2 separate regions of the Homo sapiens genome follow, and region 2 is linked to region 1. Evidence: fine-mapped expression QTL. A gene starts in region 1. The other region holds a variant in brackets. All regions are shown on one strand. Distances are between the middles of the regions. Region 1 holds the start of SLC1A2 (solute carrier family 1 member 2). Region 2 overlaps PAMR1 (peptidase domain containing associated with muscle regeneration 1).

What was found. PIP is the estimated chance that this variant, and not a neighbour inherited with it, causes the effect. A credible set is the group of variants that fine-mapping cannot tell apart.
Region 2: its variant is the best candidate, but not a certain one, in a credible set for the expression of SLC1A2 in nasal epithelium (TOPMed, PIP 0.79).

Annotation. Positions count from the first base shown.
Region 1 is chr11:35,418,135-35,421,035 of GRCh38, reverse strand. SLC1A2 (solute carrier family 1 member 2) reads left to right here and starts at 1,478. Exons shown (of 11, transcript NM_004171.4): 1 at 1,478-2,086. The coding sequence starts at 2,070. SLC1A2-AS2 (SLC1A2 antisense RNA 2) reads right to left here and starts at 1,979. Exons shown (of 2, transcript NR_186310.1): 1 at 1,929-1,979; 2 at 34-500. RefSeq lists an enhancer at 1,332-1,832.
Region 2 is chr11:35,495,626-35,498,538 of GRCh38, reverse strand. The region is part of intron 1 of PAMR1 (peptidase domain containing associated with muscle regeneration 1); the gene reads left to right. Among named protein-coding and RNA genes, the nearest start is that of PAMR1, 29 kb to the left of the region's middle. The variant C/T (reference allele first, on the strand shown) is at 1,092.

The sequences.
Region 1 (2,901 bases):
AAAGGAGAGTAAAGGAAGGAGGTAAGCAGAGATTTATTTTTTAAATTTTATTAATGTGTTTTCCCCTCTTTTTCTTGTTATTTTTCTCATCTGTCTGTTCATACTTGGATATTTTGTCCAATAAACTATCTTCTAAGGACTCTGAAAATGCACTGAATATTTTTGGAGGGTTTACTGGGTGCCAGACGCCACTTTAGGAGTTTTACATATCCTCTCCATTTCATTTAGTTCTCTTAGCACAGAGAAGTGGGAGAAGATAGTCCCATTTTACAGGTGGGATGAAGAGAGAGATGGAGGAATTTGCCCCAGGTTACTCAGCTAGAAGGTGGTGAAGAACTCAAGCCTTCGGATATCAGCGCCTGGCATTTAACTACCAATCGGTCCTGCTGGGACTCCGGCTCCTCTGGCACCATCCCCGGGACCTACTCAGAGAGTTTGCACGTGGCCGGTCGCGTTCCATCGTCTAACAAGGTCCAGCACAGCGCAAATCCGAAGATCGTCTACCCCGGGGAAAAAGAGAGTCTGTTTAATTCTCCTGTGGCCCTCCAAGTGAGTTCTTTTGGGTTCCATTGCCTAGACGAGGAAAGTGAGGCTTTGCCTGCTCTGCGCTCACAGGGTCGGCAAGTAGTGGGACCCTAGGTTCCTGCAGTATTCCAGAGATAATCAAAGCTGCACAGGTCTCGTCATTTTTATGCAAAGGCGTCCGGAAGGCTCGAACTCTCCCTTGCACAAGCCCATCTGTCTCTGTGCGCCGCCCCCGGGACACGGAAGCAGGCGGCGAGCAGCGCCGAGTGGGTGGAGAACCGTCCCCCGCCACTCACCCCTCGGCCAACTCTCCGCGCCTTCTCAGCCGGCACCCACGAGGCCGACCTCTCTCGGCCTAAAAAAAAAAAAAAAAAATCCCGGCCTCCCCTGCACCCCGCCCGCCGCCCCCAGGGAGCTGCATTAATATTAATCTCGCTGAATAATTGAAGGCCAGAGATTTATTCGAGCTTCGGCGGGGGAGGGAGCGCAGCTGGGCCGCGTTTAGGCTGCACCACCCGCGTGTTTCAGCCGCTCGACTCCGCTGGACCTGGGACCCCCAGACGTGGGAGGATGGGGTGGGTGTGCCTGCCTGTGAGTTTGGGGGTGAGTGTGAGCTGAAGCGGGTGCTCCGGGGAGTGAGGAGGGAGCGCCAGGGGCTGCTCCAGGGAGGCGGAGACGGAGGGGCATCCCGGGTCTCCGCGCGGTCGCCTGCGCTTCACCCCGCACGGGGTGACCTGGGGCCACGCGGGCTTCAGGGGAAACAATAGCTACTCCTTAGATCCTGGGCTCCTGCCACCGGCTGCCCAAGCCTTCCCGGACGAGCGGCGGGGCCTCTTTTCTTATTTGGCTAATTTATGGCGAGAGGCTGGGGGGAGGGATGGCAGAGGAGGGACCGCGACTGGAGATGGGGGCGGGGGGCGGCGGTTAAAGGAGTTGCCCGAGGCGGCGGCGCGGGTGATGTCAGCTCTCGACGAAAATAGAGAGGGATCGCCTGCAAATCCCCAGCTCCGGCGGGGCTAAACCTTGCAATCCCTCCCTGGCCGGCGCCGAGCCAGAGCGCAGCGGCCTCCACCGCCTCCCCAGGCGCGCACACACCCGCACACGCGCACGCACGCTCACCGTCCTCTGCCACCACTCTCTGCTCCCGCCACTCGCCGCGCCCGCGAGCCCCGCAGCAAAGCACAGGTGGCAGCGGCTGCAGGGGCGCATCGCCGGCGTGCGCCCTCCTGCAGCCCTGGGCGCATCGCTCTCTCGGGGAAGCCACCCTCGGAGCCCCCGGAGCTCCCCGCCAAGCGCCATCCCCGCGGGCGGAGGGGAGCGCGGGTCGCGCGCCGTGGAGAGCCGGGACGCGGATTAGCGCCCGCAGGAGCCTCCTGCGCCCGTTGAGGCGCTAAAGGGCTTACCCCGGAGGCGGGTGGAAGGGCGGGCAGAGGCTCCTCTTAAATACCGCTCCCGGCCGCACTTCGCGCTCACCCCGGCGTCCGCTTTCTCCCTCGCCCACAGCTGCCGGATAGTGCTGAAGAGGAGGGGGCGTTCCCCAGACCATGGCATCTACGGAAGGGTGAGGGGATTTTTATCTGTACCCGCGGGAAAGCGGGGTCACGCGCGGGGTGGTGGCGCCCCTATCCGGGATGCGGATAGAGAGGCGGCGGCGGCGGGCCTCGGAGGTGGTGGCGGAGCCGTAGCTTGGCTGGGGATGGGATGGTGGGGAGGGGATTGATTTTCTTTCCTGGAGATTGCTGCTTAATCCTTTGAAAATGCGAGAGGTGGAGGGTTGTTTTATTTTGATAAAAAGGGTAAGGTGCGCTGGGGGCCTGAGAGTGTGAGGAAGAAATCCTCTTGAGGTTACTTTTGGGATTTCAAAACAATAGGGGATTGGGCATAGTGTGAGCAGACACCGGGGTAGCAGCGCCTGGAGCGCGGCGCCCCAGGCCCGAGGCGGGCTTGCAGGTGGTGCCGGCTCGGAAGGAATGAGCCAAGACAGGGCCCTGGGGCGGGGCAAGGACCAGCGCGCGCGGCCTTGAACGCCAGGTTTGCAGAGTCGCCATGGAGATGCTGGGCCCGCTCCGATCGGTCCTTGTCCCTGGAAGGCGGAATCTCCCTGGCTAGCTCTAAGGAAGGGTGGAAGAGATTTGGGTGCTTCCCGGGAGGCGGGAAAACGTGTGGTTTGGGACAAGGGCAGGAGTCGCCAGACTCCAGCGGGCAGGGATAGCATTGGCTTCCCTATTCAGCCCGAGGATCTGGAGTCGTGTCCTGCCTCCCAAGATTCCAGCTGGCATGGGGAAAGCTCCCTCGCAGTGATAACTAAAGACAATTGTCTTTAGCAAGAGACAGAAGGGGCTGCAGGGGGCAAAAGGATTCTTTGAATACTCACAC
Region 2 (2,913 bases), 77 kb before region 1:
TTCTCTATTGTTTTTCTTTTTTTCTTTCTAAGCTATTAGTTTCTGAATGTTTAGTACATACTGGGTGCTGTGCTAAGCTGTTTATATGCATTATTTTGTCTAGTATTTTCAACAGGCCTAAATTGGAGAAAATGTACACTCATTTTACTGGATACTAAACTGAGACTGAGAGAGTAACGTAGCTTTGCCAAGGCAAGTAGCAGAGGGAGATTCCAAATGCAGGTCTGTTGACTCCCATGTTTGAGCCTCTAACCAATTTGTTCTCTCTCACTCTCCCTCCTCGACTTTTCACAATTAAAAAATTGTGGTAATATATATGTAGATAACATAAAATGTGCCCTTTTCTGGTATCACAAATACCAAAATTTGAATAATTTGAATAATGGGCTATACCACATGGATTTACAAAACTACAGCATATTATTAATAACACACATTCCACTAGGAAAACTTGGCACAGGTAGGAGCATGTGATGTAAACAAGAACTTGCACAGGATTCATAGTCTTTGCTACTTTCAAGTAAGCTTGGTTTTTGTCCTGTGCATATGGCCTGTGTTTATTTCCATCCTGTGGCCTTTGGGTATGCTATCCTTTCTAACTGGATGGCTTCCCTTCATTCTCTCAGCCTTTGAAAATATGATTTTTTTCTATGTTAAAAAGAAGCTATATATATAAAAAAAGAAAGCTGTATTGAGTTATAATTTTTAGATATTTTACTTGCAATGAGAAAGAAGAGAAGTTGAATGTTATAATGTAGTACAGTAATAAATATCAGTACAGTGACATGTTATAGTTGATCAATCACTATTTATTGAAAATTCAGAGTGGTCAACATGGTCTTAGGGTTTATGGACACACAAAAACATTTTACCTATAGGAAGATATAAATGTACAATGAAGGGAGAGCTAAGGGGTAATTAAAGCCCAGTGCAGATAATCAGAGGAGGAGTGGAAGGATAGAGAAGGCTAAGAAAATGTGCCATTTTAGCCATTTTAAGTGTATAATTCTGTGGCGTTAATTAGATTCCTGTGATTGTGCAACCATCACCTGTATCTAGTTCACCACCCCAAACAGAAACTCTGTAACCAT[C/T]AAGCAACACCTCTCCATTCAGCTTTCCCCCAGCTCCTGGTAACCTTTAATCTACTTTCTGTCTCTATGAATTTGCCTATTGTAGATATTGCATTTAAGTAGAATCAGACAATATTTGTCCTTTTGTGTTTGGCTTCTTTTGCTTGGCATGATTTCAAGGTTCATTTACATTGTAGCACCTAGCAGCTCCTCATTTCTTTTCATGGCTGAATAATATTCCATTGTATGCACGTACCTCATTTTTTATTTTTTATATTATTTGTTATTATTACTATTATTTTCAGACAAGAGTCTTGGTCTGTTTCCCAGGCTGGTGTCCAATGACACAATCTTGGCTCACTGCAACCTCTGCCCCTGGGTTCAAGCGATTCTCGTGCCTCAGCCTCCTAAGTAGCTGGGATTACAGGTGTGCACCACTGCTCCCGCCTAATTTTTTGTATCTTTAGTTGAGATGAGGTTTCACCATGTTGGCTAGGCTGGTCTCAAACTCCTGGCCTCAAGTGATCTGCCTGCCTCAGCCTCCCAAAGTGTTGGGATTACAGGTGTGAGCCACTGCGTTCAGCCCATGTACCTCATTTTGTTTATCCATTTGTCTCTTGATGGAAAATTGAGTTGTTTCCACCTTTTGGCTATTGTGAATGAACATTGGCATACAAGTATCTCTGAGTCTCTGTTTTCAATTTTTTAGATCTATACCTAGAAGTGTAATTGCTGGGCAATTCTGTTTAGCTTTAAGAGGAACTGCCAAACTGTTTTCCATAGGGGCTGCACCATTTCACATTTCTATCAGCAATATACAAGGGTTCCAATTTCTCTACTTCTCTGCCAACACTTGTTTTCCATTTTTCCCTTGGTTTGGATCATAGCCACCCTAGTAAGTGGTAGCTCATTGTGATTTTGATTTGCATTTCCCAAATGACTTGTGATGTTAAACATCTTTTTGTGTGCTTGTTGGCCGTTTATATAGCTTCTTTGGAGAAATGTCTATTCAAGTCATTTGCTCATTTAAAAAACTATGTTGTCTTTTTTATGGTTGAGTTGTATGAGTTTTAGAAATATGTCCTGGATATCAAGCCTTTATCAGAAATATTTTCTGATATTTTCTCCCATTTTGTGGGTGGTCTTTTCACTTATTTGATAATGTCCTTTGCTGCACAAACATTTTTAATTTTGATAAAGTCTAATTCATTTTTATTTTGTTGCTCCTGCTTTTGGTGTCATGTCTAAGAATCCATAGCCAAATCCAAGATCATGGATGGAGATTTACTCCTATGTTTCCTTCTGCTGTTCCTCACTTTTAACCATTAAATTCTCATCCAGATTTTAGAAGTCATTCACTTTGTCAGTAAAACATCAGAGACATGGGAAGCGCAGCTAAGTAAGTCATGGTGGTCACCCTGAAGGGGCTCAGACAGTAGTGGTGGAAAGAAATCTCAGTGGCGATTATGCTATGATGATGTAGCCATTCATTCCCAAACACCAATGTAAGGATCTTTTCTGGCCCACTAATTTGTGGAAAAATGATTTAAAAAGTCAAATTTTCATGAAACTAAATTTATTCCATTTAAATAACTGTCCCTCATTGTGCGAGTGTCTGCCTTCTATGATATTAGCATGTTCTTATGACCTGAGGCTAAGATAGATGATGATAGTTTATTTAAATGGCTCTACTTGGAAAATTGAGAGTGATCAACCCTGTGTCACACTTCCTAATTTGGGGAGGAAACTATGAAATTCAAGGGTTTAGAAGCCACTGCAGGTGCTAGAATTCATTTATGCGGGCCTACGAAGCATGCTGGTGATCCCTGCCTGGAGTTTCTTG